Homo sapiens: one gene and its partners. The protein of the gene in region 6 purifies or fractionates together with the protein of the main gene of each other region. This does not show direct contact. Each region holds a gene or a part of one and is shown on either strand. Other genes may lie near its edges.

The links.
Region 1: the proteins of LILRB4 (region 6) and PCDH1 purify together in Homo sapiens (affinity purification with mass spectrometry; one large-scale study listed by BioGRID and IntAct). This does not show direct contact.
Region 2: the proteins of LILRB4 (region 6) and DAGLB purify together in Homo sapiens (co-immunoprecipitation; one large-scale study listed by IntAct). This does not show direct contact.
Region 3: the proteins of LILRB4 (region 6) and ATP2B3 purify together in Homo sapiens (affinity purification with mass spectrometry; 2 studies listed by BioGRID and IntAct, with this or other methods). This does not show direct contact.
Region 4: the proteins of LILRB4 (region 6) and PCDHGB1 purify together in Homo sapiens (co-immunoprecipitation; one large-scale study listed by IntAct). This does not show direct contact.
Region 5: the proteins of LILRB4 (region 6) and PLTP purify together in Homo sapiens (co-immunoprecipitation; one large-scale study listed by IntAct). This does not show direct contact.
Region 7: the proteins of LILRB4 (region 6) and HIP1R purify together in Homo sapiens (co-immunoprecipitation; one large-scale study listed by IntAct). This does not show direct contact.

Annotation. Positions count from the first base shown.
Region 1 is NC_000005.10:141,857,911-141,861,410, forward strand, and holds part of PCDH1 (protocadherin-1 isoform 2 precursor), read right to left. Parts: intron 1-3,500. UniProt on the Homo sapiens protein: May be involved in cell-cell interaction processes and in cell adhesion.
Region 2 is NC_000007.14:6,413,455-6,416,954, forward strand, and holds part of DAGLB (diacylglycerol lipase-beta), read right to left. Parts: intron 3,468-3,500; coding exon 3,387-3,467; intron 3,301-3,386; coding exon 3,173-3,300; intron 1-3,172.
Region 3 is NC_000023.11:153,552,142-153,555,641, reverse strand, and holds part of ATP2B3 (plasma membrane calcium-transporting ATPase 3), read right to left. Parts: intron 2,608-3,500; coding exon 2,373-2,607; intron 1-2,372. UniProt on the Homo sapiens protein: ATP-driven Ca(2+) ion pump involved in the maintenance of basal intracellular Ca(2+) levels at the presynaptic terminals. Uses ATP as an energy source to transport cytosolic Ca(2+) ions across the plasma membrane to the extracellular compartment.
Region 4 is NC_000005.10:141,348,794-141,352,898, reverse strand, and holds the start of PCDHGB1 (protocadherin gamma-B1 isoform 1 precursor), read right to left. Parts: upstream 2,801-4,105; 5' UTR 2,639-2,800; coding exon 230-2,638; coding exon of another isoform or gene 206-229; intron 1-205. UniProt on the Homo sapiens protein: Potential calcium-dependent cell-adhesion protein. May be involved in the establishment and maintenance of specific neuronal connections in the brain.
Region 5 is NC_000020.11:45,905,656-45,909,155, forward strand, and holds part of PLTP (phospholipid transfer protein isoform a precursor), read right to left. Parts: intron 2,250-3,500; coding exon 2,186-2,249; intron 2,101-2,185; coding exon 2,037-2,100; intron 705-2,036; coding exon 613-704; intron 1-612. UniProt on the Homo sapiens protein: Mediates the transfer of phospholipids and free cholesterol from triglyceride-rich lipoproteins (low density lipoproteins or LDL and very low density lipoproteins or VLDL) into high-density lipoproteins (HDL) as well as the exchange of phospholipids between triglyceride-rich lipoproteins themselves.
Region 6 is NC_000019.10:54,665,985-54,669,218, reverse strand, and holds the end of LILRB4 (leukocyte immunoglobulin-like receptor subfamily B member 4 isoform 1 precursor), read right to left. Parts: intron 2,980-3,234; coding exon 2,904-2,979; intron 2,821-2,903; coding exon 2,783-2,820; coding exon of another isoform or gene 2,775-2,782; exon of another isoform or gene 2,763-2,774; intron 2,526-2,762; coding exon of another isoform or gene 2,523-2,525; coding exon 2,470-2,522; intron 1,585-2,469; coding exon 1,426-1,584; intron 1,347-1,425; coding exon 1,200-1,346; 3' UTR 501-1,199; downstream 1-500. UniProt on the Homo sapiens protein: Inhibitory receptor involved in the down-regulation of the immune response and the development of immune tolerance. Receptor for FN1. Receptor for apolipoprotein APOE. Receptor for ALCAM/CD166.
Region 7 is NC_000012.12:122,845,457-122,848,956, forward strand, and holds part of HIP1R (huntingtin-interacting protein 1-related protein), read left to right. Parts: intron 1-2,574; coding exon 2,575-2,638; intron 2,639-3,009; coding exon 3,010-3,152; intron 3,153-3,339; coding exon 3,340-3,396; intron 3,397-3,500. UniProt on the Homo sapiens protein: Component of clathrin-coated pits and vesicles, that may link the endocytic machinery to the actin cytoskeleton. Binds 3-phosphoinositides (via ENTH domain).

The DNA of each region.
Region 1 (3,500 bases), on a different chromosome or scaffold from region 6:
CCAGCTCAGCCTCTAAACACCAGCATAGCCTGCAGTTTCTAGAACAGCTTCCTAAAAGAAGCAGACTCCTAACTCCCAAACAGCTCACCAATACCACAACAGTTAGTTCCCTCATTTCCAAACAGCACCCTCCAAACTCCAGCTCCTCACCTGTCTCACTGCTCTTGCCACTGCCTCCTTCCAAATGAGGGAACAACCTTTCTTTTCTTATCCTGTGTTCCTCATCCCTGGTTTGTGATGTTGCAGCAGTCTGAAGACTCCCTGCTGTCGCCCCTCCCACTCAGCCCCCCATCCCCACTTCACTCCCCTCCAGAGAGGCCTGGGAGTGGAAAAAAAGGGAGGAGCCTGATAACAAACCAGGGCACCTGGGGGAAGGGGACAAAGCAGAACAATGGAAACTCCCCAGTCCTCCCGATCAGGAAATAGAATATTCACTGGAGAGGGTAGGGCTCTGCCAGGAGCCTGGACATGGGGAGAGGGCATGGCACCCATTAGGGATTAGGAAAGCTGGTCTCAAAGGGAGACTCCTTCCAGGAAATAGGAAGGAGCTTCTGGGAGGGCTGCTGGCATGAGGAGCCAGACTTGGAGGCTTGGACTGGGGACTGGGGGTCGGGGGAGTGGAACCGTGACAGGCTGCTCCCAGCCAGCAGCCCTGTATGCCTGCCACAGGTTAACGATCAGCCCTGGAACCTGGCAATCTCAACTTGGCACTTGGCACAACCAGCCAGCCACCCAAATACCCACTTGGGACTGCCACAGATTTTCCTGCCAACCAGAAATTAGGAGTTGTGGAGGGTGCAGACTCAGGGTCCCTGGAGGCCAGGGGTGAAAACAGCTAAGCCCAGGGCCCTGCTGATGAGTCTCTAAGCTCCTTCCCATCCTCCAAGACTTTGGCAGTGCTTTGTCTTACTCTATAACTCTGGATAGGAGGTTATGAAGATGGCCAGGGGAGGTGGCCCTGGCTTTGTAGACTTACCCTCCTAATAGCCCCATTCAAGGCAGCTAGGGTGGAAGAGGCTGTCAGGACAGGAGTTTTGGAGCTGCTGTGAAGGTAGCCCAGAACTGCCTCCCCACTATCCCCATTCCTGAAGATGGCTCCCACCTCATCTTCAGGAATAAGCGACCGTTCTTGGAATCCTTGTATTGATCTAAAACACTGAAGGGTCTGGGTGATGACTGATAAGGTCCCCAAAACTAACATGGATGTTTGGGGCCGGGAGGCTATAAAGGAGTGTAGTCCACCTGGTGTAGGGGTGATTAGGGTCCAGGAGGGGTCTGGGAGGCACAGGGCAACATGGTTGTTGGTGCTTCTCTTTCCAGTTTTCTTTCAAGATACTGGCCAGCAGTCCCACCTCCCTGCAGAACCCATATCTGGTAATTGAAGGCTTTGGTCCTGCCTACTAAGCAAGTCGCTTGGTCTCTTTTCCCATGATTCTTTTCCATAAAATGGAGGGTTGGGTTATACCCAACACTTAATGTTCCCTCTAATTTTATGACTATCAAATTATAAAAGCCCAGATCAAAAAATCTCTCTCAAACTCTTTGAGTCCTGAAGCTCTAGACACTTGCTGATTATTTCCAGTTGGCTCTGCCTACTGGCCCTTAAGATTCAACATGTCTGAAACCAAATGCTTCTTCAATTAGCTTCTGTATGGGCAATGATCTCATCACTATCCTATCACCCAGACTCAGAAGGCTGATGTCTACCTGAGAATCCTGGTAGCTCTCCCCTCATTCCCTATCCCTACCTCATATCCAATTATCCCTTGAATCCTGTGGGTCCTTTCTCCCTAACCTTTGCCAAATCCATCCATCCATCACCCCCATTGCCACCATCATAGTCCAACTCTTAGAGGTTCAGTCCTGTACCTTCATCTCTATGCCCTTTTAAGCCCACCATATATTCCAGTGCTCTTTCTAAAACTCAGTTCATCTAAAACACTCATGAGCTTTCAGGGACTAGTTCCTTCTGAAGAACTTTTGGTAAGGCACCTATGTCCTCTACAACCTACAGTTCTTCCAGTCTCATCTTTCAGCTTTCTCTTATGCCCCTCTTCTTGCCAGAATATTCCTTTTTCTGCCCTTTCCCTGCCTCCAACTTGGTTCACTTCTGCCGCAGGAGTTTGCTTACACGGTGACCCTGTGAGGAGGCAGGGGACCCTCCTGCCCTAATCCTGCTCATCATTGACAAGCTGACTTTCTCCTTCCAGAAGCCCATTTCCATGTCTTGTACAAGTTTTCCCATACTGTGCTCGTCAAAGGAAGGGAGGGGCAATATGGTGAAATAAATTCAGAAAACTCAAGAGGTAAACAAAATTGGGGCCAGGCACGGCAGCTCACACCTGTCATCCAAGCACTTTGGGAGGCTGAGGTGGGCAGATCGCTTGAGCCCAGGAGTTGAGACCAGCCTGGGCAACATGGCAAAACCCTGTCTCTACAGAAATTACAAAAATTAGCCAGGTGTGGTGGTGCACGACTGTAGTCCCAGCTACACAGGAGGATCGCTTGAGCCCAGGTGGCAGAGGTTGCAATGAGCCAAGATTGCGCCCCTGCACTCCAGCCTGGGTGACAGAGCAAGACCCTGTCTCAAAAAAAAAAAAAAAAAAGGTTAAACGAAGTCTAACAGGTTCCCCCTTTTTTGGAGGACTCTGCAGAGCCTTTAATAGGCTAATGTGATCATGAATTTCTTACTACCAAAACTAACTTCACCACAGAACGCCTTTTTTATAGCATAATAGGTAATAGGAGACCCGCCTGCTTTGTGTTTGAATTTGGCTGCATCACTATTTAGTTTTCACTTCTGCAAAATTAATATTAAAATGACCCATATCATAAAGAGTTATGAGCACTGATTGAACTAATTCACACAAAGTGCTTAGCATGGTACCTCACACCTAGTAAGGACTCAAAAAATGGAAGTGAGTGCCGGGCATGGTGGCTCATGCCTGTAATCCCAGCACTTTGGGAGGCCACGGCGGGCAGATCGCCTGAGGTCAGGAGCTCAAGACCAGCCTGACCAACATGGAGAAACCCTGTCTCTACTAAAAATACAAAATTAGCTGGGTGTGGTGGCACATGCCTGTAATCCCAGCTACTCAGGAGGCTGAGGCAGGAGAATTGCTTGAACCTGGGAGGCAGAGGTTGCAGTGAGCTGAGATCGTGCCATTGCACTCCAGCCTGGGCAACAAGAGCAAAACTCCATCTCAAAAAAAAAAAAAAAAAAAAAAAAGGAAGTGAGCAGTAGCAGTAGAAGTAGTTTCATGGAATAAGTTGGGAAAAGCTTTAGTAGGGCACTTCTCATTCGACTCAAGACACTCAATTGCCTCATCGTTCACTTGTCTGTCTTGTACAAGTATGGCCATTTTTTCATCAGGGTCTAGTACCATGCTGAGTACTCAGTGGAAACTTGGCCTGTGTGTGTTGATGATGACAACAGGTGGTGTGGTTTGGTTGTATCTGAATGTTGGGAGAAGACATTCAGTGTGGCTCCATGGATGGGT
Region 2 (3,500 bases), on a different chromosome or scaffold from region 6:
CCCGTCTCTACTAAAAATACAAAAAATTAGCCAGGCGTGGTGGTGGGCGCCTGTAGTCCCAGCTACTCAGGAGGCTGAGGTAGGAGAATGGCATGAACCCGGGAGGCGGAGCTGGCAGTGAACTGAGATCGCGCCACTGCACTCCAGCCTGGGCGACAGAGCGAGACTCCATCTCAAAAGAAAAAAAAAAAAAAAAGATGCCCCAGCAAAAATGAAGGGGCAGAGGCAACAGGCGATTCACTGCGGCAGAACCTGCACCGGCAGAGGCTGGAGCCTCCAAACACCCATCCACAGAACTGCCTTCAGCTCCCAACAACGAGTCACATAATAGTGCGTCCCGCACAGCTGGGAGAAGGAGGAGGACTGTGTGTGCCACTGCGGGGTCATCTCAGGACATGCGGTGAAAGTGAACAGCCACGACCAGAGACAGAAGAGCAGGGAAAAGGTGCAGGCTTTCATCAACAGGAGGAGAGGAACACAGACACGCTTCCTTCCAGCCATGGACATAATGGAAACACCAGTCAAAACCACCACATTCTACCTCTGGGGTGACAGAAAGGACTTTTTTGTTTTTGAGATGGAGTCTCGCTCTGTCTCCCAGGCTGGAGTGCAGCGGCACAATCTCAGCTCACTGCAACCTCCATCTCCCAGGTTCACGCCATTCTCCTGCCTCAGCCTCCCAAGCAGCTGGGACTACAGGCGCCCACCACCACGCCCAGCTAATTTTTTGTATTTTTAGTAGAGATAGGGTTTCACCGTGTTAGCCAGGATGGTCTTGATCTCCTGACCTCATGATCTGCCGGCCTTGGCCTCCCAAAGTGCTGGGATTACAGGTGTGAGCCACCACACCCGGCCAATTTTTTTTTTTTTTCTTTTGAGACGGAGTGTAGCTCTGTCACCCAGACTGGAGTGCAGTGGCACGATCTCGGCTCACGGCAACCTCTTCATCCTGGGTTCAGGCAATCCTACTGCCTCAGCCTCCCGGGTAGCTGGGACCACAGGCACACGTCACCACGTCCAGCTAATTTTTGTAAGGAACCGGGTCTATGTTGCCCAGGCTGGTCTCGATCTCCTGGGCTCAAGTGATCCTCCTGCCTCAGCCTCCCAAAGCGCTGGGGTTACAGGTGTGACCCAACATGCCCAGCCTCCTGATGTTTAAGTATCACTATACACTACAGTTACATTTTCTCTTTGGTGTAACAAAAGCCTTTCCTACCTCTTTCCAATGAAAAGGCCTGGAAATTATGACCAGCCCTGTGGTAATGAGAACTACCAGTGCCCCGATTTCAGTTCAGAAATACCATTTCCTGCTAAAAGGAACCAATATTCCTTGGAGAAACGGTTGATTCCAGATATGGACGATGGAAAAAAAAAATACTTGCTCATTTCAAGCCCAAAACTTGAGAATATTCTTGAGAAAGCAAGAAAATGAGGCCAGGCACAGTGCTCAACACCTTTAATCCTAGCACTTTGGGAGGGTGAGGCAGGAGGATCACTTGAGCCCAGGAGTTCAAGACCAGCCTGGGCAACATAGCAAGACCCTGTTCCTTACAAAAATTAGCTGGATGTGGTGGTGTGCGCCTATGGTCCCAGCTACTTGGGAGGCTGAGGCCGGAAGATCACCTGAGCACAGGAGGCAGAGGCTACAGCAAGCCATGACTGTGCTGCTGCACTCCAGCTGGGGAGACTGAGTGACACTCTGTGTCAATTAAAAAAAAAAAAAAGACAGCAAGAAAACAGACGACTGAAATTTAAGTTTTAAAAAATTAATGTCTGCCTCTGTAGACTGCTAGGCAACAATTCATTATTCTGAACACTTCTTTATTGAGGGAAAGATTTAAGCACTTATACATTCTCCTGTTTTTTCCTGTGTGAACTATATGTCAAAGAAACCAAGTGTGCGAAGAAAAGCTCTTTTTGTTCTTTACGTACATACTTTTTAATCATCCCAAAGGGCCGGGATTACAGGCATGAGCCACCACGCCTGGCCTTTATTTCATTTTAATGAAATAAAGTGGTATAATTTTCCTTTATAATCATGGCAAAAGGTTACACAGAACAGTCAGTATGCTGGAATCAGCAAAAAAAAATATAAACTTTTCAGCCAGGCGTGGTGGCTCATGCCTGTAATCCCACCATTTTGGGAGGCCAAGGTGGCGGATCATGAGGTCAGAAGACAGGAGATCGAGACCATCCTGGCTAACACGGTGAAACCCGTCTCTACTAAAAAAATACAAAAAATTAGCCGGGTGTGGTGGCGGGCGCCTGTAGTCCCAGCTACTCGGGAGGCTGAGGCAGGAGAATCGCTTGAAGCTGGGAGACGGAGGTTGCAGTGAGCCGAGATCACGCCACTGCACTCCAGCCTGGGCGACAGAGCAAGACTCCGTCTCAAAAAAAAAAAAAAAAGTAATTTTCAAACTCATAAAAATGTCTTTAAACATGTGCATTATGCATGTGTCCCCACCCAGGGCATATGCCCCCCGAGAGGGCGGAGGGAGTGCTCAGCATACTACGGGCTCTGGGCGATGTGCCTACCAGGCGCATGGATGTCAACAACCGGACCCCTCTGCCAGGGCTGTGAGAATGGGGGAGGTTGTGCTTGCTTGTGGGGAGGGAGGGTATGAGAGATCCCTACAATCTGCTGCTCAGTTTTGCTGTCAGCCTAAAACTGCTCTAAAAAATAAAGTCTGTTTGAAAAAAGACTCTTAGAATTAAATCATTGAGGAAATTACAGGTATGGTCACATAGGTCTAAGAAAGGCTAGACAGACTTTCTTCTGTGAAATAGCGCTTCAAAACACAAACCTCAGCTGGGTGCGGTGGCTCACGCCTGTAATCCCTGCACTTTGGGAGGCCGAGGCGGGCAGATCACTTGAGGTCAGGAGATCAAGACCAGCCTGGCCAACATGGTGAAACCCCACCACTACTAAAAATACAAAAATTAGCCGGCATGCTGGCGGGTGTCTGTAGTCCCAGCAACTCGGGAGGCTGAGGCAGAAGAACCGCCTGAACCTGGGAGGTGGAGCTTGCAGTGAGCCGAGATCACGCCACTGCACTCCAGCCTGGGCGACAGAGCAAGACTTCATCTCAGGAAAATAAAAGAAAAAAAAGATGAGTCTTGACCACATGACTTGTAAGTAGCAAGCTGTTAGAGCAGGAAAACAAAGGCTCACCTCCACAGCCCCCGGGGTGGGGAGAAGGCGTAGCACCTGACCTGCGGGTAGGCGGCTCTGAGCATGGTGGCCAGCAGGGCGGCCGCCCCGCCCCCGAGGCTGTGGCCCACTATGACCAGCCGGTACTCCTAGAGGACAGACAGCAGAATGAGGTGAAGGGTAAAAACAACAGCTCCAAAGAGGACAAGGAAAGAAACGTTAACTAAGATCTCACAGGAGCAATGCTGAAGGCTTGGCTCAAAATCCCGTCGTTGATGAGTCGTTGGTAAACGTATCTGGCAGCTTGAGAAATACCCTAAAAACACAGACAAAGAAGGTGGCCGTTAAT
Region 3 (3,500 bases), on a different chromosome or scaffold from region 6:
GGGGTTGAGAGCGGGAAGCCAGGAGACTGGCCGGGAGGTGGTGGCATTGTCCCAGTGGTGGGGGGACAGGGAAGACAGTTCCCAAATGAAGAGGTATGTGGCTCTTCAGGCTCGGGGACAGAGAGACAGGGTCAGGCAGCTGATGCCACTGAGGTAGACGGGCAGGGGGAGAGGAGAAGAGGAGCCAGGTTCAGAGTTTGGGAACCTGAATGAGGAGGTCAAGCCTAGGCAGTGGGGCTTGTGAGCACCGTCGGGTAAGTGTAGAAGCCTAGGTGTGGCCGAGCCGCCAGGCCTGGGGAGCCTGCGGCGGTGGGGAGTAGACACGCAGGAGTGGGAGCCAGGGGTAGGGCAGCCGGGAGACACCAGGGGAGGACATTGACCTGGGAGTCCCTGAATCCTGGCGCCCCCTGAGGCCATGGGCAGGGGGGCTGTGATCTTTGCCAGGGAGACAGCTGGGGGCCCCACTCTAAGCTGTGACAGGGTGATCCAATGGTTCCTGCAGCATATACCACTAAGTGGCCTCACTGCCAGCCTCGGGGACACTTCGTACTCTCTGAGGATCTTGGGGTGCTGGATAACAAGATCACGAGCCACAAGAAGACAATTCTCCTTTGAGCCAGCGAATGCCTGTCCCTGAAAAGTCTGGAAGCCACCCCTCTGCTGCCACCAAGTGGCCGTGACGAGCCTGAAAACCAGCAGCTGCGAACCCAGGCCTCCTCCCTCCTCAGGCCCAGTGTGTGTAGCCCAGTTCCTTCCCCATGGCCCCAAAGGGCCAGGCCAGGCTGTCCTTCCTCGCCTGCTCAGCCCTGCTCCCTGCCTTCTCCCCAAGGCCCCACAGCACAGCAGCCAGCCAGGTGTCTGGAGAAGTTGCCAGTGCCCCCGGCCGGCCCAGCTCCAGCATCAATACCACCCCAGCCACAGGCTTCCTATGGCTCCCCAGGGCCCAGCCTCACGGGCCCTCCTCTGGCTGCAGCCGTGCCGCATCTCCAAGCACCCTGGCGGTTTCAGTGAGGCCCTTGTGTCCTACTGCCTGTTGCCGGCACCCAGGACTTCGCTGGGCCTTCTGTGCGTCCTCCTCAGCCACCACCAGGCTGGCCAGTCTTTGTGGGGGTCTGCCCAGCCTCCGCAGCCTGGCCCTGTCACTGTGGTCTACCCCTTGGACTCTCTCTCAGCCACTCTTAAGCTGGAAAGGAGCTGTCCCTATTCCCCAGGCCCCTCTGGCAAGATTCCTTCCTCTGCTCTGTGCTTCAGTTGCTCCCTGGTCCAACAGAGGGACTCGATGGCTCCTGTCCCCAAGTGTGGCCTTGCTTCGCCTCACCAGCACCCTCTCCTTCTGCTCTCCCAGGCTCAGTGGGGCCCGGGACTCATGCCGCTGCCCGCCTTTGCGGGGCCCATTTCCCTCGCTGGACTTCTGTCCCCTGTCCTCCGCTACCACCCATTTTCTCCCAGGGCAAGCTCGAGGTGCTCCCTCTCTGGGCGCAGTGACCATGTTCTCCTCGGGGCACGGGGCTGCTCTGTTGACATGAGCCATGGCTGGCGTTTAGACGCACTGTCTTTGAATTGAGTGTTTTTGCTACATGATCCAATACATGAATGCCTGTCTCCCGAAGGAGAGCCCAGAAGCTTCTCCTCCCAGGTTGCACCTGCACCCCCAGGGTGGCTCCTACAAAGACAAGTTGTCAGGGTCACAGTGGCCCTGCTTGTGACACAGGTGGGTGCCATGCAGAGGCCCTGGGGAGACAGAGGGGCACCCCATGCCTTGCATTCTCCCTCCGGGGCCGGCCATCCTCCACACTCTCCAGGGTCTGGGATCTTTCAACAACAAAGTGACTTCCCAGTGTCAAGGCCATGGCATCTGCCACGCGGCCCTCGAGGTCCCCTCATCTGGACTCCCCTGGTGGCATCGTCCATATGGGGATATGCTTCTGGGCTCCCTTTCCCGCCAGGACCTTTGCTGTGAGCTCGCCACAGGACGTCCTGACCGTAGAGTAGCCCCAGCCAAACCCTCAACCAATAAACGCCCACCCTGTGCCCCAAACCTGTGTCCCCTCAGGCTTCAGCACCACCTCCAGTCCATCGGTCCTGGGTGGATCAGATCCCAAATGTCGACGGTCTCTCCGCCACTGCCACCTTCTCACCTGGTAGAAGGTGGAGCCTGAGCTGGGCCCATAGGTCAAGCGGGAAGGGCTTTCCAGCAGGCAGGACAGAGCCTTTGTGCGGGTGTCAGGGTGAGAGCACCCAGGACGGGGCTCAAGTGTACTACGGAGGGACCGCAGCAGCTGTGTGTGAAGGAAGGCCGCCCCTACCAGTCCGGACAAGCTCGGGCAGAGGGCACAGTTACCAGGGCAGCTCACAGAGAAGGTGGTGGCTACCTCGGGCCGCACAGGGTCCTCAATGCCCACGACAGCTATGCAGGTGAGGTCACCCACGACCTCATTCTCGTTGTCCCAGTCGGGCTCCTGGCCTGCAGAGAAGTCCCGGTAGGCGATGCAGATGGTGCGGAGGCCATCGCAAGCCATCGGCTCGATGATCTTCCTCACCATGTCGTCCCGGTCCCGAGGCCGAAAGCCCCGGAGTTCGCCATTGCTGTTCAAGATGTTGGTGCACCTAGGCAGGGGGTGGGCAGAGATGAGGTGGAGGTGGGGAGAGAACAACAAGGAACAGCGCTGGTCACACTGGATTGGGGGCTTAGTCAAGGACTGGGGTCCTTATCAGAGAGGAGTGCCCCGTGTGAGAACACAGACACACAGGGAGAAGGGCGTGTGACAACAGGCAGAGATTAGAGAGGGTCAGCTGCAAGCTGAGGAACGCGAGGACTGGCAGCCACCACCAGAAGCTGGAGGATGCAGGATGCATCCTCTCTGAGATGCTTTGGAGGCGCTTCGGCCCTGCCCACGCCCTGCTTTTGGACTTCCGGCCTCCAGAACTGGGGGAGAATCCATTTCTGTTGCTTGAGGGCACCAGGACGCTCATGCACTGCTGCAGGCTGAGAGACCGGGAGGGAGGCAGGAGCATGTGGCTCATGGCAGCTCCACCACAGACTTCATAGGGCAAGCGGGTGGAACCTGGGCAAAAACTGAAGTCTGTGGACAATCGCTATAACCACGTCCAGGCAGCCACAGCCTCAGTAGAGCGCTCATGACTCCAGGAGCTTCTCAAAAGGGACAGGACTTGGGAGGATTCAGGTGGGGAGAGGAGGGAGCAAAGGAGCCGAGGGTCACAGAGGCGGGCATGGTGGAAGAAGCCAGTGGGGCTGTGAGTGCCAGGTGCTGCCACTGCATGGGAGGCTGGTGACGAAGGAAATGATCATAACAGAAGCTGTGTGGACGGAGAGCCTCCTATGGATGTGGATTCACCCACGGAACCCTCACACCCCTCCCCAGAGATAAGTATTCTGTGATCTCCATGCCACCAGGGAAACTGAGGCATGGGAGTAAGGGGGAGTGAAGCTGGGCTGGGCCTTTTGTCCGCAGTGCCTCAGTGTCCCTCAGTGCCCACCA
Region 4 (4,105 bases), on a different chromosome or scaffold from region 6:
CTCCTGTCTCAGCTTCCTGAGTAACTGGGACTACAGGCGCGTGCCACCACACCCAACTAATTTTTGTAATTTTAGTAGACCGGGTTTTACCATCTTGGCTATGCTGGTCTCAAACTCCTGACCTCAAGTGATCCACCTGCCTCAGCCTGGTTAAGTGCTGGGATTACAGGCTTGAGCCACCGCGCCCGGCCGCCATATATAAAATTTAACTAGATTTGCAGAAACTCACGTGCGAAGACAAAGAAGGGTCATAAGCGATTTTGTGATCTTCATTACTGGCACATACAACCATAGAAGGATCATCACACAGCAGATCCTGAGGGGGAGCCATTTCCGGTGTCAGGTTGAGAGAATTAAACTCTGTCTTTGCAGAATGAGAGGCAATACATAGATTGTAGGAATAGGGCAAAGTCCCCTCGCTGTGGTTGGGAGGAACCCCGGGCCCAGACTTGGAGCAGAGACCGGTTTGAAAGCAGCCCTCAGTGTCGAGGCTGGAGGAACGTCGCAGGCGCAGGGCGATCGCTAGAATCACCGCGAGGAGAAAGAGCACTGAGATCAAGGCCAAGGCCACAACCAGGTAAAACTGCAGTTCCGTCTGGGGGTCAGAGGGCTCAGGGCGGTCGCTGAGGTCTGGCAATACCTCTTGCAGGCTATCCGCGAAGATTAGGTGCAGCGTGGCGGTGGCGGAGAGTGGCGGCTGTCCTCCATCACGCACAGCGACCAGCAGGCGCTGGCGGGCCGCGTCCCTGTCGCCCAAGGCACGCGCTGTGCGCACCTCACCCGTGCGCAACCCCAGGCTGAAGAGCCCGGGCTCGCTGGCCTGCAGCACGTGGTAGGACAGCCAAGCGTTGTGTCCTGAGTCTGCGTCCACCGCCACCACCTTGGTCACCAGGTAGCCGGGCTCTGCGGCGCGTGGCACCATATCGAAGAGGGCGGAGCCATCAGGCCCCAGCGCGGGGTACAGCACCCGTGGCGCATTGTCATTGAGGTCGCCCACCAACACGCGCAGGCTCACGTTGGCGCTGAGCGCGGGGGAGCCCTGGTCCCTGGCCTGCAGTGTGAGCTCGAAGGCGCGCAGCTGCTCGTGGTCGAAGGCGCGCTGCGCGAACACCACCCCGCTCTGCGGGCTCACGGACACGTAGGACAACAGCTCCCGCGGCTCCAGGTCACTGGCCAGAATAGAGTAGGAGACTCTGCCGTTGGGTCCCAAATCCGGGTCGGAGGCGCTTACTTGTGCAATGGAGGCGCCAGGTGGGTTGTTCTCAGACACGTGGACCACATAGGAGGCCTGATGGAAAACAGGTGCATTGTCGTTGATGTCGGAGATGTGCAGGGTGATGCTTGTCCTGGAGGAAAGGGCTGGTTTGCCCTTGTCGGTGGCTATGATTGTGACGTTGTAGTCTGCTGTCTGCTCCCGGTTTAGGGCTCCAGCAATCACCAGCTTGTAATAATTCTTCGAGGTGGATTCTAATTTGAAAGGAACTTCTTCCTGAGTATAGCATGTCACCATGCCATTTTGCCCAGAATCCTTGTCTCGCACTTTTATGAGGGCTATTACAGTTCCAAGGTCTGAATCCTCTGGAATCTGGTTAGAGAAGGACATGAATGTCACCTCTGGGGCATTGTCATTCTCGTCAACAATTTCTATTTGAACATTACAGTGAGCTGTGTGTACTCCTCCATCCTTAGCTTCCACACTCAACACATATCTACTTGTCTCTTCAAAATCCAATGTGCCATTGGTTGTGATGTCGCCAGTATTTGGATTGAGATTGAAGAGGCTGGTACTTATTGGGGAATTGAGGAAGGCATAGGTGATCTCTGCATTAATGCCCTCATCCTGGTCTGTGGCCATCACCCGCAGCACGGAGGTTCCCCACGGTACGTTTTCTTGGAGGCTAACCCTGTATACCTCCTGGCTAAACACGGGAGCATTATCATTGGCATCCGTAACTCGGATCCAGATATGGGTGGTGCCGCTTAGAGGCGGGTCCCCGCCATCCATGGCAGTCAGGATTAAGCGATGAGAGCTCTGATGTTCCCTGTCTAGAGGTTTTTCCAGCAGTAATACCGGATATTTACTTCCATCAGGACTTTCCTTCGTTGACAGAGAGAAGTATTGATTGGGGTTGATGGTGTATAACTTCAGTGAATTGCCTTCCACATCTGCATCTTGAGCAGAATCCAGAGAGAATTTTACCCCGGGTAAGGCTGACTCACAAATTTCTAAGTCAATGCCTTTTGCAACGAAACGTGGTGCATTGTCATTAATATCTTGGATTACAACAACCACGTGGAAAACATTCATTGGGTTTTCAGCGACCGTTTCGAATTCTAGTGCACACTCAAGTTTCCTTCCGCAAATCTTCTCTCGATCTATCCTACCGTTCACTAACAAATCCCCGCTCTCCAAACTAACGTTGAAATAATCCTCTGCACTAACCCGCAGTTTTCGAGTTGGCAACTCCCGGACACTGAGCCCCAGATCCTTGGCAAGTTTCCCCACCCGTGAGCCGTTGGCTAGCTCCTCTGGAATCGTGTATCGGATCTGCTGGGAGATGGCCCCGCAGAACAAAGACAGCAGGAAGGGAAACAGTACCTGACTTTTCATCATTTCGGCTTCTCTGGCTCTCTGCATTTCAGGAACTCTCCGCGGAGCTTCTTTCCTCTGGGATGTTTTTCAAAAAGAAATGGCAGCACCCTGGACTTCTGTGATTTGAGCTTAGGACTTATTAGTTAGGCGCTCGAGGGTGAACAGGAGCAGCGTCTGTGCTCAGTGCACCGGACAAAGCAGGAAGGCACCCTGCCTGACGCTCCTGCAGAATTGAGAAGCCTTCACTTCCTTTTGGTCGACAGCGGCGCCCAGAGGTTGTCTTGGAAAACTGCACAGGGCCCAGCTTTTTATCCTCAAAGCGCAACCTCTTGAATCTATGTACCCTGTCTTTAATTTGCTGGAGGGAAACACATACTCACATTTTCCCCTTTACATTTCAGTTTTCTAGTTTGTCATCATCAGATAAGGGCCTTCATCATTTCGTATTCTTTTTTCATTTAAAAAATTCACAAGGTACACTGCCATTTTTTTCAGTTTTGGGGGTAAAAAAAAATCTTCAGTGATTTCACTATATTTATAAACTCTGGCATGACTGCTGTATCCAAATAAGTGAATTGATAATTTTTATTTATATTTTTAGTTGACTAAAATACCTACCTTTCTGTAAATTCATTGGAATAAGCTCCCTTATCTAGTATTTTAAATCTCTCCATATATATGTTATCAATTCAGTAATACTTTTCAAAAATAGTTTTTGCAAAAAAGAGGAAATCACAGCCTTACTATTATGTTATTTCTCTTCTTTATAAAATATAGATAATCTTTCCAGTTAAGTAGGACAAAGTCTGATATTTTGTTAAAAGGGCCAATTTAGTGTTGGGGTACACATACATGCTTTTATGAAGTGGAATCTCATATAATGTACATTTGTTTTATGAAACCAGTGCTTCTTTTTTATATGAATGTATATTAAATACTCTAGGCTGGGTGCAGTGACCTGTGATCCCAGCACTTTGGGAGGCCAAGGTGGGAAGAACACATGAGGTCAGGAGTTTGAGACTAGCCTGTCCAACATGGTGCAAGCCATCTCTACTAAAAAAAATAAAAATTATCCAGGCATGGTGGCGGGTACCTGTAACGCCAGCTACTCGGGAGGTTGAGGCAGCAGAATCACTTAACTCAGGAGGCAGAGGTTGCAGTGAGTTGAGATCATGCCACTGAAGTCCATCCTGGGTGACAGAGCAAGACTCTGTCTCAAAAACATTCTCTATAATGCCAATTCTCAGCTCCAGCCGACTTATACCATTAATGAGCAAAACGAGTTTGACTTGACCACTGGTAAATATTGGAGAGGTATTCAGAGTTCTTAGACACCCAATTTTGGAACTTATTCTGTAGTTCCAGGCTTAGAACCAGTCTTGGTTCAAAGCAAATCCCTTTATTTCAAATGCATTACCAAATGAGATCCAACTCAACAATTTATTCTACTATTTTGCAGTGCTCACCCATACTCATACTCTATTCGAAACAGCCTATTATCTGTTTTCTTAA
Region 5 (3,500 bases), on a different chromosome or scaffold from region 6:
GTCTCAAACTCCTGGGCTCAAGCGATCCTCTCGCCTGGGCCTCCCAAAGTATTGGGATTACAGGCATGAGCCACTGCACCCGACTGATTCTAGCTCCCGAGTCTGCACTCTGAAACTGCTATACTCCTCTGGGAGACCAAAGGTAGTGGCTACACACTGGCTATGTGGCCTTGGGCAAGTGACGTCACCTCTATGAGTAAGTCTCCACATTCCTAAAATTAGGATGATGTTAGTACCTGACTCACAGGGTTGTGAGAGAATGAAATGAGATTATTTGTATAGAAATTTATGTCCAGCTCCTTCGGGGGAGTTGGGGAAAGGCCGTGCATGAGCAAAGGCCCTGAGGTGGGAAGCCAGGGTCCAATTTGGGAAAGAGCAGCTGCAAAGAAACAGGATGAGATATAAAAGGTGGGGCCAGGTAAGATTAACAGGGGCTCAAATGCCAGACCCAGGAGGCTGAACCTAATTCTGTAGTAACAGGGAGCCATAGCATTCTCAGTAATGGGAGTGGCCTCATCAGAGCTGTGCTTTAAGAAGTAAAATCTTGCAACTTAGCAGAGAAAGAGGTCTTGTTAGGAAGTCAGAGGTCATACACCAGCCCAAGCAGCTCACCCGGAAGTCCATGTCCAGGTTGCTGGTGGAAGCCACAGGATCCTTCATGAGGGAATAGTCAATGCCAACAAGCTCGTCCACAGAACTGCGCACTGCAGGAAGGGGCTCAAGTCACTCACGGCTGTGTGATGTGGGATAAGGTGCTTAACCTCTCCAGGCTCAGAGGCCCACCCATAAAATGAGGATACATCCTTCACAGGGTTGTCATGAGGGTCAAATTAGTTTTATGTGGAAAGCACTTAGGGCCTGGTGTGTAGTTAGGTGCTCATTAATGTTAGTTATTATTATTACTACCACTATAGAGGTTTCAAAAAAATAACTAAACAAGATGGCATGGGGGGGCCGCGCATGGTGGCTCACACCTGTAATCCCAGCACTTAGGGAGGTCAAGGCGGGCGGATCACCTGAGGTCAGGTGTTCGAGACCAGCCTGGTCCACCACGGTGAAACCCCGTCTCTACTAAAAATACAAAAATTAGTTGGGCATGGTGGTGGGCGCCTGTAATCCCAGCTACTCAGGAGGCTGAGGCAGGAGAATCGCTTGATCCTGGGAGGTGGAGGTTGCAGGGAGCCAGGATTGCACCACTGCACTCCAGCCTGGGTGACAGAGCGAGACTCCATCTCAAAAAAAAAAAAAAAAAAAAAAGATGGCATGAGGTTCCTTTCCCTTGGTTTCTCCTACCTCCTCCTTCGCTTCCCATGCCTGTGTGTTAGGTGTGATGGGAAAATACCTTTGCCCCACAGTAGACAGAGGTCATGGCTTAGAAAAAGGGAATTCATGGCCAGGCACAGTGGCTCATGCCTATAATCCCAGCACTTTGGGAGGCCAAGGTGGGCAGATCAGGAGGTCAGGAGATCGAGACCATCCCGGCCAACATGGTGAAACCCCGTCTCTACTAAAACACAAAAAACTAGTTGGGCATGGTGGTGCACGCCTGTAGTCCCAGCTACTCGAGATGCTGAGGCAGGAGAATTGCTTGAACCCGGGAGGTGGAGATTGCAGTGAGCTGAGATCGCGCCACTGGACTCCAGCCTGGCAACAGAGTGAGACTGTAAGACTCCGTGCAAAAAAAAAAAAAAAAGAAAGAAAAAGAAAAAGGGAATTCATGTTAATTGAGCACCTATTAGATGCTAGGTGATGAAGACAAATGGGATGCCAGTGATCAGCATGCACATATTGAGGACCTTGACAACTATTCTCTCAGATAATCCTCACAGCAACCCCAGGAGGAGGCACTGCCAGCCAAGTGAGGAAACAAGCACTTTGCCCAGACAGAAATGAGCACTTCACCCAAAATCGCACAACAAGTCAGCTCCAGGGGCCACATTTGAACCCAGGACTGTTCAACAGCAGGGCTCGGAAGGGGCCTGCTCTGAGGTGCTGCATGACAGCTGCACACCCAGACTCACCCGCCACCAACTCACCAGGCACGGTGTCCAGGAGGGAGTTGAGCAGGACCGTCCCTGCGTGGTAGAGGACAGGGCAGATCTGCGAGGTGGGAGCCAGAGTCAGGGCCTTCTCAAAGTGAGAGCATGCCCACCCTTGCCACCCTGCGACCTGTCGCTGCCCACACCTGCTGGTTGAGGAGGAAGCGCATCCCTGAGGTGATGAACGTGGAGAGAAAATCATACACCTTCCTGTGAGGAGAGGAGAGGCCGGATGAGCCCAGAACCTGCCTCCACCCCAGTCCAGGTCCAGGAGAAATCAGTGACTAGGGAAATAGTGGCAGTAGGAGTCCTCAGCTTCAGCCTGAATAACAGCTCCTCCACGTAGGTTTTCCAAGAACCAGGCCCAAATTCCCTCTCCAGTCTAATTCTCAAGACCTCCTGACCTACTCTCTGGTCCCATCAGTCAAATGAATCCACCCACATTGCCTCAAACCCACTCTGAGCATCCCCACATCCATCGGCTTACTGATGCCCTCCCTTCCGCCCTCTGCATTCCTACTCTGTATTTTCCCATCTGAGCTCAGATGCTTCCTCTTCCAGGCAGTCTTCCCAGATTCCCCTCCTCTGAATCCCCAAAGCATTTTCTTAGTCCTTCTCTCCAGGCCCTGATATCAAATGTTTTTTGCTCCAGATAGGCTCTGAGCTCCTTCCTGCATCCTCAGGGACTGGCATACACTTTGTTTGATGAATAAATAATACTGACAGTGTACCAACACCAGGTTATAATCCATCATCTTCTCTCCCCCATCCTCTTCCAGAACAAGAACAATATCCCCTTCTCAGCAGCAAAAATAAAAAAATAGGCCGGGCACAGTTGCTCAGGCCTGTAATCCCAGCACTTTGGTAGGCCGAGGCGGACAGACCACCTGAGATCAGGAGTTTGAGACCAGCGTGGCCAATATGGCGAAACCCTGTCTCTACTAAAAATACAAAAAAAGTAGTTGGGCATGGTGGTGCATGCCTGTAGTCCCAGCTACTTGGGAGGCTGAGGCAGGAGAATCGTTTGAACCCAGGAGGTGGAGGTTGCAGTAAACCGAGATGGCGCCACTGCACTCCAGGCTGGGTGACACAGTGAGACTCCCTCTCAAAAAAAAAATTATTATTTTTGTTATTATTATTTAGAGATACCAATTATTGAGAATCCAGTACATGGCCAAATGTGCATATCAGATAGTCCTCACAGTTACTCTTATCTAAGTGGCCAGCACTTAAATATACATTTATCATATGCCAGGTGCTGTTCTAAATTTTTTTTTTTTTTTTTTTTTGAGATGGAATCTTGCTCTGTCACCAGGCTGGAGTGCAGTGGCACGATCTCAGCTCACTGCAACCTCCGCCTCCCGGGTTCAAGCGATTCTCCTGCCTCAGCCTCCCACGTAGCTGGGACTACAGGCACGTGCCACCACGCCCAGCTAATTTTTGTATTTTTAGTAGAGATGG
Region 6 (3,234 bases):
CAAAAACTACTTGAAACATGGGCAAAGTAGCTGAACAGGCATTTCTCAAAAGAAGACATACAAATGGTCAGCAGCTATATGAAAAGGTGCTCAGACAAAAGCTTTGTCTATTGAGATGATAATTTTTCATTCCTTTTGTTAAAATACTGAATTACATTGATTGAGTTTTTGAAAATTAAGCTATCCTTGCTTTTCATAAACAAAATCAAAGGATAACAAAAAACCAGTGTGGTCATGATATACTGTCTATTTTATAGAGACATGAATCTTACTTGTTAATATTTGTTAAGGGATTTATATTTCTGTGAGAGATCTTCTATGACTTTCCCATTCTGTAGTTTCCTTTTCAGGTTTTGGTATCAACTTGTTCCTAGTCTGATCAAATGTATTTGTGTAAATATATACAAAATATTCTCAGGGAAAATTTATGCAAGTTTGTGTGTGTGTGTGTCTGTGTGTTTCATGAGTGCATAAGAGTTTGAAAAAACCACCAACAAACCTTGCTGAAGTGGCATTTACTTTGTGGGAACATTTTTGATTACAGGATCAATGCATTTTATATATGTTTATGTATGATGATTCAGTTTTTCTATTTATCCTTATGTTCATTAAGTAAACTGTAATTTTTCGTATTTCATCTATCTCATCTACATTTTCTGTTATGTCAGCATAGAATTGCTGACAGTTTTCTTTCACCTCTGTAAAGCTGTGTGTAGGGTCTGTAGTGCTGCCTCCTATTTTGTTCCTGTATGGAAATGGATGCCTGCTCTTTTTTCATTTTTATTTTTCTCATTGTGGCCAAGATTCATGTATCATTAATGTTTTCAAGAATAAACATTTTGACTTTATTAATTTTTCTCTATTTTTTGTTTGTCCTCATTAGAAGCTCCCATTTTCCCATGTCATTGGTTTGATGTGTAATATTTACATGATCATTCAATTTAAAACATTGTCTGACTTCTGTTTTGTTTTATCAGTTAACTCATTGTGAATTGAGAGGTCTGCTACTTTATTTTGATAATGCAGGGATATTATTTATCTTTGCAGAATCAGGTGACTCCCAACGTTCCCGGAATCTTCTAGTGGTCTGTGTCAGGGGTCTGGGCTGGCTGGGGTTCAGTGATGTCTACTGGAGGCAGCTTCCATGCCTTCTGGGGTCCTGAGTCTCCATGGCTTGTGGGGTCTGGGTCCCCCCTGGATTAGTGGATGGCCAGAGTGGCATAGACACTGGGCTCAGCTGGAGAGGCCCCTTCCTGGGATGGAGGAGGCTCAGTTGCCTTCTGTCTGAGGGTAAAGCTGTGCAGCCGGGCGTAGGTCACATCCTGGGGGGCTTCAGATGCAGCAGCCTGCAGCGGGGGAGAGTGAGAGGGAAGGAACGTGGTGGGGGTGGGGGAGGCCTGGGGGCCTGGAGAGGAAAGGACTCACCTCAGTGTCCATCTGTCTGTCCTCTTCTGCCTGTCTGTCCTTTGTGTCCAGGAATTCCCCAGACAGTGGGGAGGGAGGAGAGGCCATTTCTCTCCTAGGTCTGGAGTGTTTCACCTTGGCATACGTCACTGCCTGGGGGTCTTCATCGTGTGGGCTCTGCTGGAGAGAGACAGTGGTGGGGGGTGTCCTTGAATCCTCCTGACTCCCTGGAGTCAATTTTCCCCACTGTTCCCAGGGTGATCCGATTACATCCCTTTCCTGACGGAATCTCAGGGATGCCCTAAGGCCGTGGAGGGTCTGGCCGCTCCCTCCCTGTGGTTCTGGTCTCTGCTCCTCACTCTGACCTTGCCCATTTGGCTGCAGCCTCACGCGGCCTTCCTGCAAGAGCTCGCTGCTGCCTCGGGGCCTTTGCACGGCTGTTTCCTCTGCCTGCAGGGGCTCGTCCATTAGAGGATCACGTGGCCCTCTCCGTCCAGGCTTCTCAGATGACAGCTGAGCAGACAGCCCTCCCTTTCCATTCAGACTGGCCCCACTGCCCCACACTCTCTGCCCTTTACCTGGTTTATGTTCCTTACAGCACGTTGCACTCCTGGACACGATGCATTTATTTGCATTTTGTCTCCCACCACGAGGTGAGCTCAGGAGGCGGGGGCGGCTTTGCTCCCTGCTGTGTCTGCAGCTCCCATGGGGAGCCCCATCCACAGTGAGCTCCCTGGGAACACTCACTAGATGAATGAATGAAGGGGAGCCCAGGGGACTGGAGTGGTTCATTTATTCGTCATCCTCCTGAGGCCTGGGGAGCTCTCTAACAACCAGATGGCCAAACAGAGGATGAGGAGCAGGAAGGGGACCCGGGAGGAGGCCCATGAGGTCCCAGGACAGCAGGAGAGAGTGAGGTCCCAGCAGGCAGGAGGCAGCGTGCTGGACAAGGAGGGGTCCACCGTGACGATGCTGAGAGCCGGGGGAAGGAGGACAGAGAAGTCCTGCAGGATTAGATCTGGCACCAGGAGGCCTTTGGTGCCGGGGACAGGGGCGGGTTCTCACCCGAGTGTCCATTTCCACCCCGTCCTCAGGCTGTGTGTTCTTCACGGCAGCACCTGCTGGGGTAGAGCAAGGGGTTCATCTCCTGGGAAGGTTCCCTGGGACCTCTCATTCCTGCTGGTCCCTGCCCTGTTCCCATTAGTGCCACTGCAACGCAGGGAGGGGCTGTGATGTCCCCGAGGTCCCACAATGTGGGTTCAGACCACTTCTCCCTGAGTCCCTGACCAATCCTAGCCTGTGCTCCTGCCCCCATTGCTATTGAAATTTTGGGACCCCCAGCTCCACCCCAGGTGCACCTTCTCTGCCTCTCACTCACAGAAGTTTTCTCCCTGGACGTCAGCAGCTGGGCTGGACCTGGGGGAGGATACGGGAGTGTAAGGGGACAGTGAGGTGGCTGTTGGGATGGGTGGGAGTCTGAGGTCTTTGGGCAGAATTACCTCCTCTGTAGGCCCCCGTCCTTGGGCTCTGGCTCGGCAGCCCCTGGAGGACGTTGGAAATCAGCCTGTCTCTGGGCTGGGGGAAGATGGACAGAGTCTCAGCTCTGGGAACGTTAGAACCACCTGCCTTGCACATGCAAGTCAAGAGGAAAGGAAACCTGAAAATACACTTGCAAGGATGTTTTAAATACTTTCTAAGTTTAGAAAAACCGAAAGAATAAAGCACTTCCATTACTCCCTCATTCATTTTCTTCTTTCTAGATTTTCTCACTGGGAATTTCTGGAGCAGAGTTTCTAAGATGACCTCTCCTATCTGGAGTCCCTTTGGCTG
Region 7 (3,500 bases), on a different chromosome or scaffold from region 6:
GCCAGCGCGGGGAGCAGGCAGCACTGAGGCCCAGGCGCACAGGAGACCATGCCATGTGCCCAAGGCATGCCCCGTCACACTGCATTCCTGGGGCCTCCCTCCTGCCATGAAAGTCATTTGCATGCCAGGCACTGTTGAGGAGCTGGGGGTTCAGCAGCACCTATAGGCCGATCTGCTTCCCCTCGTGTTGCTGACTGCTGGGTGAGGGGAGAGGGTGATAAATAAGGAAACACTCCACTGTCTGAGGGTGCCCGGCCCTCAGAGACCATCCATCCAGAAGGTGCAGATTTCAACAGGGCGGCTGCAGGAGGGTGTGAGGGTGCCGGGTGCGGGGAGCTGGAGCTCTGCTGAGTGGGCATCTGGAGCCTAGGGCCTGGGGACACGGGTGGCTGCACCTTGGCCTCACTGTGTCTTTCCTCGCAAAGAGGAGAGGGCAGCCCATTCCCCCAGAATGTGTTCTCTGCTTCTAGGGTCCCTATCTCAGCCCCATCCCGGGGTTTCCTCAGTGTCAGGAGAAACCCCCGCATCTCTGTGTCTACAGCCTCTCTGGTGCCAGGTCTGCACCAGTCACTTCGCCTCCACCCTTCTTGCCAGGAATCTTCCGAACCAGGTGGCAGCTCAGGTGTCGGCAGCTGGGGATGGGGTTACACACCCCGGAGACGGACACGCCTGGCTTGTGACAGGACAGCTGCTTGCCAGTGAGCTGGGGAAAGTCACAGCCCCTGCCTCCTGCCCTGGGAGCCCCTCCCCACGGGAGGAACTGCCTGGGGGCTGTTCAGAGTCACTAAGGACACAGGTTGTGGAATCAGACAGACCTGGCTTTGAACACTGCCTTTATCCTTATTAGCTGTACAGACAAGTATATAAGCCTTCTGTGCCTCAGTTTCCTCACCAGGAAAATGGGTTAGTCACCACTTCCCTGGGCTGTTGCTGGGAGGCGAGTTGCCCATGCCTGGCTGGGGCTGGGCACTCAGGATCCTTATCATCATAGCTGCTGTCGTGAGCAATATTCTGCCTCTGGGGGCATGACACTCTCAGCCATGGCTTCTCACAGTTGGTGGATACGAGTTTGTTCAAGGAAGGAGCTGAGGCCTGGGGGCCACTGGCTGGGCAGCCCTCAGGATCAGGCCCACCAGAGCCTCTGTGCATTTCCTCAGGTCGTGGTTCCTTGAGATGGGACCGCAGCTCCTCCCCGACTACAGGGAGCAGGGCTCAGGGCAGCCCCAGGACACCTGCCTGGGAGGGTCCAGTACAATGGGCCCTGTGTGTGAAAGGGGGTCAGCATCGTGCTAGGGGCCGGGGGCGGCCCAGAGGCTGCCTGGCCCAGCCCCGCAGTCCCCTAGCTCCCATCTGAGGTCCCACCAGGTAGGGCCCCCCAGCTTCCCGGGCTGGCTTTTCTCACAGAGGAAATTCCACAGTAGACCCTAATTGGATGTCCTCTGCTCCGGTGTTGGGTGGGAGAGTGCAGTGGTGTCTGGGGAGAAGGCGCAGGAGCGCTGCACTGTCCTGCAAGCCGGCTCCCTGCCCTTCAAGGCCTGCCTGGCTTAGGCCAGCCTGTGGCTCAGGAGCCCAGCTGCCCTGGCTGAGGCTGGGGGCTGCGTGTCCCATCTCAGTGTCTGCATCTGTCGAGGCCCTGTCCCTCCCGCCCATGGCCTGGACAGCTCTTCTCAGGTCACAAACATTGGTGGTGGGGGACAGAGGTTTAGCAGACCTGTTCCCTGCATGAGAAATACCCCATGCCCCACGGAGCCAGGGCCGGGTTGTAGTGATGGTACCGCCGTGAGCCCTCCTCGAGAGCACAGTCACGTCCAGGAAGCCTACTCGGAAAAGGAGGCAGTAGCCGGGGCGGGGGGGGAGGGGTGAGACTGCCATAGGTGGAGCGGGAGGGATGCTGAGATTCTGGCCTTGGTCAAGTGTGAAGGTGCCACTTGCGCAGCTCCGGGTGACAGCTGCAGACCCCACTCCTGCCTTCCTCCGCCCCTGGCTGGGCTGCAGGTGGCAGCAGGAGCTTGACACAGTTTGACAGGGTGAGGCCCCACCCAGGAGAGGGGCAGCCTATGGGGCAGTGGGCCACAGGCCCTGGGCTTTGCCTAAGTTTCCTGGGAATGCCTCCCAGGAGAGTGGGGACAATGTGATGTGCACCCTTCATGGGGTGCCGCAAAGGCCAGGTGGGCCCCAGCCGGGGGCTCCAGTCTCAGCTGCTTTTCCCCAAGGGGAGATGGGGCCGGAGGACACCACACTGGGCCATGACCTGGGGCTCAGGGCACCACATCTGCCAGGAGAGTCAAGTCGTGCAGGTTTTGGGCAGGATGGCCTCCCGGAGCCATAGCCCAGCTTTGGTCCTTGTCCCCTGACTCCTGGAGCTCTTGGTGTTCACTGTAGTTCCAGCTGCACCGATCAGGCACAGGGAAGTCCTTCAGAAGCTTAGGTTGAGGGGATTCCTGTCTCCCCCATCGCTCCACTGGCCTTGAACCCAGGCAGAATCCTGTTCAGTATTGTGCTTCTCCCCCTTGGGGTGGTGTCTCCTGGGGTGGCTGCCTGGGGCTCTAAACACTGCTCCTTTGTCCCTCACAGGCCATCAGCATCAGCAAAGCCATCAACACCCAGGAGGCCCCCGTGAAGGAGAAGCACGCCCGGCGTATCCTTGGCCGGCTCTTGGACCCAGGAGTTGGGTGTGGATGTGGGAGCAGCGTAGTGCTGCAGGTGGCCTGCGGTCAGCTGTGCCGGGGTCACAAGTTCCCTCACTGAGCCCGGGGAGGAGGGTCCTGTGCAGCTTGGCTCCTTCCCATCTCAGTCTCATCACAAAAACGCCCCCATTGGGCCCAATGATTTCCTTGTCTTGCCCTAACTCCTGTCCCCTTGGCTGGACACTGGAGCTCTGGTGACCCGGGGTTGATGGGCACGTGATTGGGGGCCGGCCCTCTTCCGGCGGCCCTGGCCTCTCTCAGCCGGGTTTGCTGAGCCCCCGTGCTCCAGTCTCTGCTTCCACACTTGGCCTTGACATTGCAGGCATCATTCTGGGCACACACCACGAGAAGGGGGCTTTCACCTTCTGGTCCTACGCCATTGGGCTGCCGCTGCCCAGCAGCTCCATTCTCAGCTGGAAGTTCTGCCACGTCCTCCACAAGGTCCTTCGAGACGGGCACCCCAATGTGAGTAGCAGCTGCTGCCTCTGCTCCCCGGAGCTGGGGCACTGTCCCGCGGACATGCGGGCTCTGGCCCTGTTCCTGTCCCCGTAGCTCCGGGCTGTTCCTCCCGCCTCGGGTGGGGAGTGCGTGTCTCAGGGCCCTGCCACACGGTCCTGGACACTCCCCCACTCCCGTATTCCCTGCGCTGCAGGTGCTGCATGACTGCCAGCGGTACCGCAGCAACATCCGGGAGATTGGAGACCTGTGGGTAGGTCCAGCCATTCTAGGTCCTGCCTGGCATTCGGGGCTTTCCTGAGCGTGTGGGGCTGAGCGAAGGGTGGCTCCCTGTGGGCAGTTCCCTGCGGGTGGCTG